2 separate regions of the Homo sapiens genome follow, and region 2 is reported to be linked to region 1. The links are microRNA targets in miRTarBase. Many come from high-throughput screens and were not tested one by one. Region 1 holds a microRNA gene; the other region holds the end of a gene's coding sequence.
Evidence for each region. Region 1 holds the annotated microRNA hsa-miR-744-5p (UGCGGGGCUAGGGCUAACAGCA, at 4,279-4,300, shown strand). A microRNA usually pairs through its seed, bases 2 to 8, with sites in the 3' UTR of a target mRNA and lowers its output. Matches are read on the target gene's strand: a 7mer-m8 pairs with bases 2 to 8, a 7mer-A1 pairs with bases 2 to 7 and ends in A, and an 8mer does both.

Region 1 (7,120 bases):
AAGAAGGAGGTTGGAGGAAAAGAAAAAGAGTCTTTTTTCCAACTGAGTTAGCTCCTTTTAAGTACTGTGTTCCTATTTTCCACCTCTAACTGCAAGGAATGTTGGTGACTTAGCTTGGCCTGCAAAATACCACATACTAGGTGGCTTAAACAACATAATTTATTTCTCACAATTCTCGAGACTGGAGAGTCCAAGATTAAGGTGCTGGCAAGGTAGGTTTTAACCTGAGGCGTCCTGCCTTGGTTTATAGGTGGCCACCTCTCACTCTGAGCTCAAGTGACCTCTTGTGCATATGAGAAGAGAGTGAACTCTGTGGTCTCTCTTCTTGTAAGGACACTAATCCCAGTGGATTAGGGCCCCACCCTTCATTAACCTTCATTGAACCTTCATTATCTTCTTATAGGCCCTGTCTTCAGTACAGTCACATTTGGGGTTAGGGCCTTAACATGTGGATTTTGAGAGGAAACACAGTTCAGTTCATAGTAGTTGGGAAATGTAGCCTTTTAGCTGGGTGCATTGCTGCCACACATAAATGAGGATCCTGTTAGGGAGGATGAAGAGGAGAATGGATGTTGGGTGACAGCTGATAGTTACTGCCACAGCGGCTGTTGTCTGAGTTTCCCAGGTTGGTAATGAGAACCTTGGGGTTGGAACCTTATGTAGTGTTCATTGGAGGCAGGTAAGGGTGATCTGTATAAAATAATGCACAGAAAATTATGAAGGGAAAGATGAGGGATATTTAGGAATTATTTTTATTTTGGGGGGTACATGGTGTATATATTTATGGAGTATGTGAGATGTTTTGATATGGGCATGCAATGTGTAATAATCACATCGTGGGAAATTGGGTGTCCATCTTCTCAAGCACTTTTCCTTTGTGTTACAAACAATCCAATTGTACTAGGAATTATTTTTGATAAAATATAGTCCCCATTCTGAAGAAAGTGATATCCCAAGGAAAAGTCAGGGAACTTTTTTTTTCTTTAAGAGTATAATTGTAGGCAAATATTTATGAACAAGTAAGGGCAACTTTACATCTTTATTGGTTTGTATTTTTCACCAATCTTCTCATTGGGTGTGTTTTCTACTGTTTATGTTCTTTCTTTCCTAGGCCTCTTACGTAGTTTAGGACAGAAATTGATTGACTCCAGAGTTTAATGGAAAGGTTCTGGTCCAGTTCCTGTATCTAGTCAGTCCAGTGCTGTATCTGTGTATAGTCCTGTGGAAGCCATTGTGGTTGTACCTACTGTTAAAGCAATTGCTGTGAAATGGACTCAGTTTTGCTGGAAAGATCGCTAGCCCAGTATAAAGACGAATGTATGAACATGCCTTGGTGATGTCATAACTGTGGCATGTTTTTCTGTGGTTTTTACAGCACTTTTTCTTTCTAAATGAGAAACTTGGAACTCTGGGTAGGAATCACATTCTCCTCTTTTAGCAGCTTTGCTGAGATGTAATTCACATATTCTGCAGTTACACATTTAAAGTGTATAGTTCATTTGCTTTTAGTATATTTAGTATATTTACAGAATTGTGCATCTGACACCTTATTCAGTTTTTGGATATTAGCCCAAGTAGGTACCCTGTATCACTTCGCTTTCAACTTATTCAGTTTTAAAAAGAAACTACAGTGAGCTAAACTATTAGTAGAGATATTCCATAATACTAAAATTTGATCTTTAAAATAAGACATAATATTGTAACTGTTTTCATTCTGTAATTTCTATATAGTAATGAAATATCTTTCATTTCAGTTCTCAAGAATGCTAGCATAAGTATTATATAGCAATGTAGTCATGAGAGTCATATTATATCATCTTTACCATATTCTCTTGGTTAGAGGTAAGTCACAGGTCCCACTCACACCCAAAGAAATATGCCTACACAAAAATACGAACACTAAGAAGGTGGGGATCATGAGGACTTCCTGGAGCCTGTCTGCCACAGCCCTTCAATTAGCGAACACTGTAAAAAATTTTGCTTCTGATTTACAAGTAATTTTAATTAACTTTTTTTCAGCTTCCCTCAGTGGTAGATTGGTGCTGTATATTTCACCAGTGATTTTGCCATTGAGATAGTATTTACTTGCCAAAGATTATAGAACAATAATCATTATACATGGAACTTCTTCATGTTAGAACTTTTTTCAGGCTTAATCTGTCTACTTCATGAAAAAGATTACCAAGAAGAGTTTCCTATTTTTGCCTAGACCTGATTTCCATCTTAAAAGATCAGTTCCAGCTTCATCTTCACCTAAATGGTCACTTATGCCACTGATTTCCGGGCTTCTTGTGATTCTGGATGCTAGAGTATCAAATAATATGGGTGAAAGGACTTTGAACTGAAAAGCACTTGTATGAATGAAAGCTTATCACTTAGTATGATTTGAAAGTCTGTTATTTGGAACACTGATTTAGTAAATTGTTATTTAGACCAAGTGTATGAATCTTTGAAGTGTAACTTTGAACCTTAATATTAGTACATACGATTATTCTCAGAGTGGGGGTAGATTTTAAAGTTCTAAGTTTTTTGGGAACCTTAAAGGTTGCTACAGAAAACCATTCTACTAATTGGAGAAAACTTTCCTAAATTTTGGAAGAAGAAAAATAATGACCAAGCACATAAACTTTGCTTGTTTGCATCATAGGATCAGAGTTTAAAAGAGATCCTGATCATTTAGTATGAAACTGAAAAATGTAGTTGATATTTAATGAATTCTTTCATTGTGTGTATGGTTGATAGTTTGTTCCTACACATTGGGGTTTGGTGTGTGTGTGAGAGAGAGCAAGAGAGAGAAACAGATTGATTTTACATTTTTCATTGGATTTACTTTTTTACAAAGCATGGTTAGAAGTTATTAATACTTTGATCTCCAGGTTGAGATTTTGGAGATGATTTTTTATTTAATGGAAATATGTAATGAGTGAGCTCTTTTGTCTACGAGCCACTCATTTTTTATCCCATTGCTTTATCGAACGAGGGCTGAAAATTTCAATTTTGAATAGCACATGGCAATTTTCCTCTTAGAGCCAGCTAGCTATTCAGTTAACTGTTCTCCCACCTCAGGATGGTATTAACAAGAACAGGACAGTATACTAAGGCACTAGTTCCCAAACATTACTGGAATCATCTGGGGGTCTTTAAAAATACTGTTTTCTGACTCCTGTCCCTGGATAATTCAGATGTAATTGCTATGGGACGATACCTGGGCATTGAGATTTTTAAAATCTCCCCCAGGTGATTGTAAGGTACAGCAAACCTTGGGAATAGTTGTACTAACTGAAGATTGAGGCACTGGAATAACTAATGTTGGGTAAGATAGGGTAAGAACTTTTTCGCAATAAGGTTTGCAGCTCTTGGGATTCTCACTTGATAATGCTGTTTGGATAAACCATCATCCAAGTTTGAATAAGATCTTATATTTAGAAATGAAAACTGATCTGCAGAATTAGTTTAATCAATAAATGGGAATTTTTAAAAATCTTCTTGGCAATTTGTTTTTATGAATCCCGTTGAAGCTGTGTCTATTGACTACCTAAATCTAGATCATTCTTAATCCAGTGTGTAAAAAACCAGGATGACACAAATGAAAAACTTCAAAAACCTGGAGGTCAGACTATTTTAGTAATTTAGAAAACATTTTTCCCACACATTAATCAGTACTAAAAGAAAAAAGTTAAAACCTATTTAAAATGTGGAAAAATTGCTTCCCAATATTTTAACAGAGAGAGACTGAGAACACACAGCATTGAGTCATCAGGAAAACTGAAGATCTCCCCTGAACAACACTGGGATTTCACTGCAGAGGACTTGAAAGACCTTGGAGAAATTGGACGAGGAGCTTATGGTTCTGTCAACAAAATGGTCCACAAACCAAGTGGGCAAATAATGGCAGTTAAAGTAGGTGATGCCATGATTATTTTTGGTACTTTAATCCATTAGGTGAAATTTCATGGTGCAGTAATACCACTGTTGTTGTGTTCCTACTTTTGTGGTAAATGTGGGTGTTTAAAAAATTGTTTCTCCAACTCCTTTGAGGGTGTTCTGTGTAGAGGTTTCTTATTGGTGGCACATTTTCTATCTCTTTGGAAACATGAGTGTATGAAGTGTGCATGTTGATTGCATTTTTGGCATGATGCATTAACATGTTTTAAACTTCAGGCCCTTCTACTGCCAAGGTGAGTTCAGGCTGGGCGGCTGCACCCCTGGGAGCAGGGCAGTGCTGCACTGAGCCAGGCGGGAGCTGGAAGAAGACGCAGCACACTGGGTTGGGCAAGGTGCGGGGCTAGGGCTAACAGCAGTCTTACTGAAGGTTTCCTGGAAACCACGCACATGCTGTTGCCACTAACCTCAACCTTACTCGGTCCTGACCGGCTCGGCTTCTGTTTGTTTATTTCATCTCTACTCAGTACTGCCCTGTTCCCTGGTTTTAAAGTTGTACTGAAATGCATACCTTGTGATAATGTTGTCACATTTTGTCCTTATTGTGTCGTGCCACTTAATATGTTCATTAAAAAAAAAAAATGGCCAGAAACAGAGATTTGATCCATAGACAATACCTGGCAAGCTTATGCTGGTACCTGTAAAGAACTGGTGGTTTCCATCTGACTCCTAGTTTCATGTAATTGTAATTTATTCATTTGTTTGTTTAGATGTTTAACAAATCTTTGCTGTATGTAAGATATTTCAGGAAAATCAGCAACAGGGGGAACAACTTGCAAAAACAAAGGAAAAAAAGCTAGCTGTGGCCATACCCTCTCTGAGCTTAAAATTCCTATGGGAACAAAAATGTTTCAGTTTACAAGAATTCAGAATGGATTTGCATATAGTCCAAGCTAATCATCTTCCTATTAGTGTCCTATTTTGAGAGTTTGTCAGAGTGGTTGATAAGAGTCCTTAGTTTTTTCTTGACATTTGAGAATGAATTTAAATTAAAATAAAATGCTTTCTGTGTAGAAGTCTGTTGTGAGCCAAACCTTACTGTAACTATTTTAGTATCCTTCACTGTTGAGCATTTCTTTTTGCTGGGTCATATGAAAGTAATGTTAAATTAGTGGTAGGGAAAATTTTTATGATTCTCTCTATGGGTTCCTAACATTGTTTTTGGCTGTATTTTTAAAATGTGGTGAGAACTATAGACTTTTCATAGGCAGGTGTATATACACAACATTTTGTATACAAACCGTAGACCTCTAAAGATGCACAGGTGAAGAACTCTGCATTATGTGTTAAAATAAAATGTTTTATTGGAATGTGAAATGATTTCTGTATTCCTATTTTGTGCCACTGCAGTGTAAGTGGAAAGAGTCATTTTATTTAGACTCCTGGATGAATGTTGTGTTGTCCCTTTGTGCTACCTGTGTGTGACATCCAGTTTTAGTTGGCTGGATCTTAAGGGAAAGGTTTCCTATATAGTTAAAGTTGTAAACTTTTCTTTCAGGTACTAGGGAAAGTAATTTTAAAAAATTATTTCCTGCTTTTTACAGTTTGTGTTATGTGTGCTTCAACTTTGTTGATGAACATTATTAAACATTTTAGTAATATGGATTGATTTTAGCCATTGTTAAAAAGGTCATAAAGGTAAAGAGGGTACTTCCTTTTGACACTTAAAAGTTTTTCTCACTGATTAATTTGATAATATTTTGGGTTGTATAATGCTTACTCAAGTTTTGTAGGAATTCAAGAATGAAAATAGGAAATTGTTGTCCATCATTTGTAATGTTACATTATCAGTGGCTACTGGCTACTGTGACAGTTCCAGTTGGGATGCTATTAAAAATCCCAGCTGTACTTGAAGAACTTTCAAGGCAGTCATGAGACCTACAAACTGGTTGCTGTCACATGTATACCCACCACATGGTACTACCTAGCTTCGTTTACCATCTCGAATTCTTGAACAAGCATAGCAGTTGGGGATGGGAGAGGATGGCAGTACAACACATCAATTAACATATAGTTGAGGAGTACCTTTGGATTCCATGACTTCATTAATACTGGAAGAATAAGTGTTTTTGCATTAATATGCATTAAAATTTGATACCAATTGATGACAGATGTATGCCATCTCTGAATTAAAGAATGCATTTATTATTGGTTTCTTCAAAGAAGAATAGTCTTTCATCACACTTGAGAGAGTTCATTCATTCCTCATTTAGGTACATTGACTGGATTGACAGGCACAAATATACAGAATCAATGTATGATTAAGGAGGTGTTTGATTTGAGACTTTACGGTTTTAAAGGAACCATGAGACGGTGGTTCACACAGCTGAGAGCTTTCCATTGCTGTTGGTGAAATGAGAAACACGCTTGAAGTAACTCTGTGCTAACATCTTAATACACACTTTGAGAATAAAGAAGGATTGCATTATTAGATGTTAAGCTGGAAATGATCCTTAAGATTTACTTGCAATATCTGTAGAAAAGTGAACTGTGATATTAGCTTGATTTTTTTCTTTGTATTATTCCTCATTTTTAGTTCTGAGGAATTCCTTCCCCAAATTTATTTTGCCATATATAAGAAATATTTGAAAAAGGTGACTTCTTAGTAACCAGAGTTAATTACCCCAAAGACTTAATCTAAAAATCAGTTTTGATATAATCAGATTTAGTGAGGTAACATTGTAAGAGTTATACTTAAAACAATTTTTTGATGTTTGGTTTGAGGACAGTCTCCCAAGCTATCGGTGAGTTTCTGCATTAGGACCTAAGATGTGAACATGGTTTACCCTTTAGTTTTAATTGCACGTGCTTGGGAAAAGGGTCTTGCTCTCCTGTGAGTGGGAGTAATTTGTATACTTGTGCCTGAATGACTAGTCTTAGGGCTGCCTAGGGCAAAGCCAGTGTTGCCTCTGGGGTTTCTTAAAGCTCAGGGAGAACAACCTTCAACTCTTACCAGGGATTTACTTCTAACTGTGATCAGTATCCTTTACAAATAACATTTATTTAGTGTCCTGTTTTGCACGGTGGTGGGGTAACCACTGAATGAAAACATTAGACATGAACAGTCACTGTCCTCTACATAAAGTAGGTGCCTGCTCAGCTCTCTGGCAGGTGGAAATGGGAGAGGATGGCAATACAACACATCAATTAACATATAGATGAGGAGTACCTCATCTAT
Region 2 (7,120 bases), not on the chromosome of region 1:
ACCAGAACTCAGACCAAGCCAATGAGGAATGGGAGACTGCATCAGAGAGCAGTGACTTCACCAGTGAGCGCCGAGGGGACAAAGAGGCACCCCCACCAGTACTGCTGACACCCAAGGCTGTGGGAACTCCTGGGGGAGGTGGAGGTGGAGCCGTACCAGGTATTTCAGCCATGTCCCGCGGAGATCTGAGCCAGAGAGCCAAGGATTTGAGTAAACGGAGCTTCTCAAGTCAGCGGCCAGGCATGGAACGGCAGAATCGGCGCCCTGGCCCAGGGGGCAAGGCTGGCAGCAGTGGCAGCAGCAGTGGAGGAGGCGGTGGGGGTCCTGGAGGAAGGACCGGGCCAGGACGAGGCGACAAGAGGAGCTGGCCCTCTCCCAAGAACCGAAGGTGGGTAGGAACAAACAAATTTATTGTGGTTTAAAAATTGGAGGAGGGGGAAAAAGCCTGAGGGAAAGATAAGTTTGGGTGGAGTGGAGATTGTGGCCTGAGGGGCCATGGGCTCTAGAATGTCAGTAGGATTTCCATGTCTGGCTAAGGCAACTGGAAAGCGGTTGGTAGGGTGTTAGAGTCAAGAACACCCACCTATGTATTCATTGCTGGTTCTTTGCTTTCCAGTCTGTGCATCTGTATGCATAGGAATCCTTAGAAGGACTCAAAAACACCTGGACTTTAATAGGGAAGAGAATAGGTTGTAAGCAGAAGTTGGGAAACATAACTTGTGGGAAAAAGTAACGATTTAGTGGATACTGGAGCTAATGCTCTGTTTTCTCCAGTCGTCCTCCAGAGGAGCGTCCCCCGGGGCTTCCCCTGCCTCCCCCACCTCCCAGCAGTTCTGCTGTCTTCCGCCTGGACCAAGTTATCCACAGCAACCCTGCTGGCATCCAACAGGCTCTGGCCCAGCTTAGTAGCCGTCAAGGGAGTGTAACTGCACCAGGGGGTCATCCAAGGCACAAGCCTGGGCTTCCCCAAGCCCCTCAGGGCCCCTCTCCTAGGCCCCCAACCCGATACGAGCCCCAGAGGGTCAACAGCGGCCTCAGTTCTGGTAAGCTGGAGGGGTTATGGGTGGGAATATCTCCATCCCCAGAGAAGGTCAAGTGCTGGAGGGAGCGGGTGGAGAACCTGGCCTAGGGACCCTGCTGCTGGGTGCGTTTCTGCAGGGAGCAAGGGTAGAAGAATTGGGAGGTGGAGTAGAGAGGAAAAGTTAGGGTCAGTGGCAGAGCCAGGCAGATGCTGACCCTTTTTCTCTTTCCCAGACCCCCACTTTGAGGAGCCGGGGCCAATGGTGAGAGGGGTGGGTGGGACTCCTCGGGACTCTGCCGGGGTTAGTCCCTTTCCCCCTAAACGTCGGGAGCGGCCTCCCAGAAAACCAGAGCTGCTACAGGAGGTAAGGGATGGGTTTGAGATTGTGCTTCACTGCACTCTTACTCGTGAAAATTCTTCTGGGTTATGTTTTCTCTGTTTTCTTTCCTGTTTCTTTCACTGTGTTTTTACTCCAGAATTCTCAGTATTAGTCTCCCATGTGTCTCCCTTGTTGTCCCCACACCCTGTGTCACCCCACTCTGTCCTGGCTTCCTATAATTCCCAATTCCCACCCAATTCATGTTTTGCTTCTGGCCCTTCTCATCTGTAGGAATCTTTGCCACCTCCTCATAGCTCTGGATTCTTGGGCTCTAAGCCTGAGGGCCCAGGCCCTCAGGCAGAGTCCAGAGATACAGGCACAGAGGCCCTGACCCCTCACATCTGGAACCGTTTACATACTGGTGAGTAAAGCTGAGTGAAAGGACTATGGTAGAAGGGTTAAGAATGAGAGGGGCTTCTGAACTGTCATCTCCTCACTTCTCTTCTGGTTGGTGCTCCCTTCTCCAGCCACTAGCCGAAAGAGTTACCGGCCCAGCTCCATGGAGCCTTGGATGGAGCCCCTGAGTCCTTTTGAGGATGTGGCTGGCACAGAAGTGAGTGAGGGTGGGAGGGTGTGTCTGAGCTGGGACTTTTTTGAGCACTGGTCATACCCCCCACCTGCTCTGGGTTGAGTCTGGAGCTGTTCTCTCACTTGGCTGTCCCCTTTCTGCAGTTTGTATGTGTGCATCAGTCAGGTATTGGGGTGCTTTCTACCCTGACTTAACTAGCTCCTTCTCCACTCCTCTCAGATGAGTCAGTCTGACAGTGGGGTGGACCTGAGTGGGGATTCTCAGGTGTCATCAGGTCCCTGCAGCCAGCGAAGTTCCCCTGATGGAGGACTCAAGGGGGCAGCAGAGGGACCCCCCAAGAGGCCTGGAGGCTCCTCACCCCTGAATGCTGTTCCTTGTGAGGGTCCACCTGGCTCTGAACCTCCTAGGAGACCACCACCTGCCCCCCACGATGGGGACAGAAAGGTAAAAGACCAAAAAAGGATAAGGGGAATGTTTCCAGGAATCTGACTTTGGCCCTACCTTTTTCTGCTTTTTCTCTCTGCGTGTGTGTTCTGGGCATTCCAATTTGGATTTCCCTTTCCCTCCCCCAATGCACTTTACTGTGTGCCCAATCCAGGAGCTGCCCCGGGAGCAGCCTCTGCCCCCTGGCCCCATTGGCACAGAACGATCACAGCGTACAGACCGAGGCACAGAGCCTGGCCCCATTCGGCCATCCCATCGACCTGGTCCCCCAGTCCAGTTTGGCACTAGTGACAAGGTCTGTGTGGGCTGGATCTGGGTATCCTGAGTTGGGTGGAGAGAAGGGAAGGACTAAAGGTGGGACATAGAGGACACATGTCTGTCACGGGACAATGTCTCCTGCCTTCTTGTGATCACAGGACTCAGACTTACGCCTAGTGGTAGGAGACAGCTTGAAAGCAGAGAAGGAGCTAACAGCATCAGTCACTGAGGTAAGTGGGAGTAAGAGTTTGGTGGAAAGGCCCAAGATTTCTGGGGAAGATTGCTGGGAGTGACCAGGGCGTCCAGGATGCCAGACATCCCTCTCCACGAGGCCTCTCCTTCCCAGGCCATTCCTGTATCACGAGACTGGGAGCTGCTTCCCAGTGCTGCTGCCTCTGCTGAGCCACAATCCAAGAACCTGGATTCTGGGCACTGTGTCCCGGAGCCCAGCTCCTCAGGCCAGCGCCTGTATCCTGAGGTTTTCTATGGCAGTGCTGGGCCTTCCAGTTCTCAGGTAGGCCCCGCTTCCCATTGCATGACCCCTTCAGTGAATAATAATTTTTTTCTGCCTGGTATGTATTTATAATCAAGCCTTTCTACGTTGCAGAGTTGTGAGATACCACTTTGTCACATCATTTTTCTCCCTACTTTTTGCTTCTATGGGTGGGATGGTGATCTTTTTTCTTGACCACAGATACTAAAGCTGTTTCAACCGTGCTCCTCTCCTGCAGATCTCTGGGGGAGCCATGGACTCTCAATTACATCCAAACAGTGGAGGCTTCCGCCCTGGGACACCCTCACTGCACCCTTACAGGTAAGACTCGATGCCTGTGGATCACAGAAGTACTTGGAGATGTGTTTCGGGGAGAGGGAAGGGGAAGACACAGTTCTAGGGTACTAGAAGCTAGTGGACTTAAGGCATTGCTAGGACTCTGGCTTCCTAACAGCTTTTCTCCCCACAATTTATTTTCAGATCACAGCCCCTATACCTACCCCCCGGCCCAGCCCCTCCCTCAGCACTGCTCTCTGGGTTAGCTCTCAAGGGCCAGTTTCTGGATTTCTCCACAATGCAAGCTACAGAGCTGGGGAAGTTGCCGGCTGGAGGAGTTCTCTACCCTCCACCTTCCTTCCTCTACTCTCCGGCTTTCTGCCCCAGTCCTTTGCCTGACACATCGTTGCTTCAGGTAAGAGGGGGGCAGGTATTAGATATTGGGGGATAGGGTAGGGAGAATGATTTTGTGGGGGTTGATATATTTCTCCCTGTTTCCCGACAGGTACGCCAGGATCTGCCATCCCCTTCGGATTTTTATTCTACTCCTCTGCAGCCTGGTGGCCAAAGTGGCTTTCTCCCTTCAGGGGCTCCTGCCCAGCAGGTATATTGTATCTTCACACTTCCCCTTCATTTGATTTCTCTGTCCAGTTGCTGGCTTTGATTTTCCCTGGTTTTCTGACATTCCTCCCTGCCCCCAACATGCACACCCAAATTTCTTGTTACAGATGCTTCTACCCATGGTAGACTCACAGCTGCCTGTGGTGAACTTTGGCTCCCTGCCGCCAGCACCACCTCCTGCCCCACCTCCCCTTTCTCTGTTACCTGTGGGCCCTGCTCTGCAGCCCCCCAGCCTGGCTGTGCGGCCCCCACCTGCTCCTGCTACTCGGGTGCTGCCTTCACCTGCCAGGCCCTTCCCCGCTAGCTTGGGGCGAGCAGAGGTAAGGTACAGGAACTGAGGGGCTAGGGAGCGCCAAGACTTGGGAGTAGGGATTCTGTATTTCAAGGTAGGCAGCTCATGATTTTTTTCCCCTCAGCTGCATCCAGTGGAACTAAAGCCGTTCCAGGATTATCAAAAACTGAGCAGCAACCTTGGGGGACCTGGATCATCACGGACTCCCCCAACTGGAAGGTGAAACGGAATAGGGATGTGGACTTTCCAAGTGCTTCCTTACTTTGGAACCAGGGTCTGGATCCTAGGCTTGCCTTAGACGCCCTTCTTCCCTTAGGTCCTTCTCTGGCCTCAATTCCCGTCTCAAGGCCACGCCTTCCACCTACAGTGGAGTCTTCCGCACCCAGCGCGTCGACCTTTACCAGCAGGTGAAGGAGAAACCCTTGTGGCCCCAACTCTAAATTCGAGTTGCCACCTGATTTCCTGTCCTTCCGTCTCATCGCTGACCTCTCACTGTGACTCACTGTTTAACACATGCCTGTCCCCTAGGCCTCCCCACCAGATGCCCTGCGCTGGATACCTAAGCCTTGGGAGCGGACAGGGCCGCCACCTCGAGAAGGGCCCTCCCGACGGGCAGAGGAGCCTGGGTCCCGAGGGGACAAGGAGCCTGGGTTGCCCCCACCCCGCTGAGGGAGTTCCTCTTGCCCCCTACCCCCGGGGCTTGTATATAGATTATAAATATATAAGGGGGAAAGGGGTGGGCGGGGAGGGGTTCTGGGGCTGGGGCCTCACTTCCCCTCCTCCCCCTTCCCCTGGTCCCCTGTCCCTGGGGCTGTTTGTTAAAAAAGAGTAATAAAAGGATTTAAAAAAAAAAACTTCTACAATGATTTGGGGGATGAGTTGTTTGCATTGTCTTAAAGCATGGTGCTGAGTGATCTGTAGTTTCAGTCAGGGAAATATTCATTACTTATTCCAGTGAGCTGTTGAAACTAAAAACATGACCATCGTATTGGATCTTTAAATTTTTGTGAGTCTGGAATTTGGGCTGAGCTCAGCTGGATAAATCTGCTTTTTTGTGCCAGTGAGCGAGGTCAACTGGTTATCAGTCTGCAGCTGACACCTGGGCTGGTCCCAATATGGCTTCCTTTGCATATCTAGGGCCTTGGTGGGACATCTGTAACATTACTGGGTTATCAACCAGTGTCTTCACATGGACTCTCCAGCAGGCCTGTTAAATGTCCGTGAGCTCATGTTCCAAGAGGTCTAGCTGGAATTTTCTAAGCTTATGCCATGCTTAGTTGATAAGAGCACTAAACTAGCCAAGGTAGGGGATGGGGGGGTTTAGAAGGGACTTCAACTGCATCTCAAAGGGACTAGCAAAGAATTTGCAGCCATGGGACTTCAGTTCTTTATGATGAACTAAGGGGAAATCTCTGTTAAGGCCTCAATGTTGGAGCACACTTAAGGGGCTCTTTGAATTGGATAGACCAATTCCAGCATTGTCAAACTAAGTGGGATTTCACATGGTAACGCTGCATGCTAGTTATGCTAAAGACTATACTTAGGTCTGCAGCTGCTCAGAAACTTTTTTTGATGGGTAATTTGAGAGCTCTATGCTAGTGTGCACCTGGAATATGCTCCCAACTCAAAATACAGGTTTTTTATTTATATATAAAGTGCTTTCGCACAAAAAATACAAACATCAGGCTGGGCGCGGTGGCCCACGCCTGTAATTCCAGCACTTTGGGAGGCCAAGGCGGGTGGATCACAAGGTCAGGAGTTCGAGACCAGCCTGGCCAATATGGTGAAACCCTGTCTCTACTAAAAATACAAAAATTAGCCGGGCGTCGTGGCGGACGCCTGTAGTCCCAGCTACTCAGGAGGCTGAGGCATGAGTGAGAATCACTTGAACCCGGGAGGTGGAGGTTGTAGTGAGCCGAGCTCGAGATCGGGCCACTGCACTCCAGCCTGGGAGACAGCAATACTCTGTCTCAAAAAAAAAAAAAAACAAACATCAAAACTGGCTTGTACAATTTAGCGTGCTGAGTAGAACACAACAGTGTTCCAAGGAAGTATTAATTTAAAAAAGTTCACACAAGATTAAGGGACACACTACCTAATGGAGACAATGTAGAGAGAAAGCAGCCAGAAAAATCCGACTTTTATTTCTTAAATACTGTGAAGGAAGAGGGGGGAAACGGTCCCCTGATGAGGAAGGGCCATAGAGCAAAGAGCTAAGGATCATCAGCAAAGGCCCGCTGGGCATTGGGGAAGCGCTGGGGACTGTAGTTGGGGTCTTCCTGCAGTCGTTTTTGTATATCAGACCGGAGCTAAAGAGAAAAAGTAAGCAGGTTGGAGAAACGCTGGCCAAGTCCCCATGATCCCAGCAAGCACACAAGGCCATCCCTCAGAAGCTAACATTTCCCCCCCCAAGCACACTGTCAAATAGCCCGGGGTGGCACTGTCAAGCCTTCCCAGATGCCAAAGGGGAAAACAAATGGTAGCACCAGGCTGACCAGTTCATCGCTGAAGGGATCCAGGGAAGAGGGACCCTAGCCCAACCCCTCCCACTAGACCATCCCTATTCTGCTTCAAGGTGGCACCTGCTGCCTGTAGCTCTCCTGAACCTCTGGTGCCTCCAGGTCCCGGCTCAGGCTCTCGGGGCTCGTCAGGGGCCGAGCTCCGGCTGCCTTAGCTGCCCGGCTCACAGCCTCTGAGAGAAGCAGCTGGGGGCCCTCACCCTGCATCGTCTGGGGGACAGGGGGTTGGGAGGGAAAAGAGGATCAACGTCAGATCCAGTGCCACCATCCGGCTCACCCTTTCCATGA

Region 2: the mRNA of BAG6 is a reported target of hsa-miR-744-5p. The part of its 3' UTR that is shown has no 7-base or 8-base seed match.

The regions. Positions count from the first base shown.
Region 1 is chr17:12,077,631-12,084,750 of GRCh38, forward strand. MIR744 (microRNA 744) reads left to right here and starts at 4,269; the gene lies at 4,269-4,366. It overlaps MAP2K4 (mitogen-activated protein kinase kinase 4), which reads left to right. Exons shown (of 11, transcript NM_003010.4): 3 at 3,726-3,900.
Region 2 is chr6:31,632,605-31,639,724 of GRCh38, forward strand. BAG6 (BAG cochaperone 6) reads right to left here. Exons shown (of 26, transcript NM_001387994.1): 25 at 6,896-7,042; 26 at 6,424-6,622. The coding sequence ends at 6,527. PRRC2A (proline rich coiled-coil 2A) reads left to right here. Exons shown (of 31, transcript NM_004638.4): 16 at 1-388; 17 at 775-1,043; 18 at 1,255-1,385; 19 at 1,632-1,761; 20 at 1,868-1,953; 21 at 2,149-2,373; 22 at 2,528-2,668; 23 at 2,790-2,861; 24 at 2,978-3,145; 25 at 3,363-3,445; 26 at 3,605-3,815; 27 at 3,906-4,004; 28 at 4,129-4,341; 29 at 4,438-4,532; 2 more. The coding sequence ends at 4,982. It overlaps MIR6832 (microRNA 6832), which reads left to right and starts at 1,183; the gene lies at 1,183-1,254. RefSeq lists a silencer at 2,075-2,238.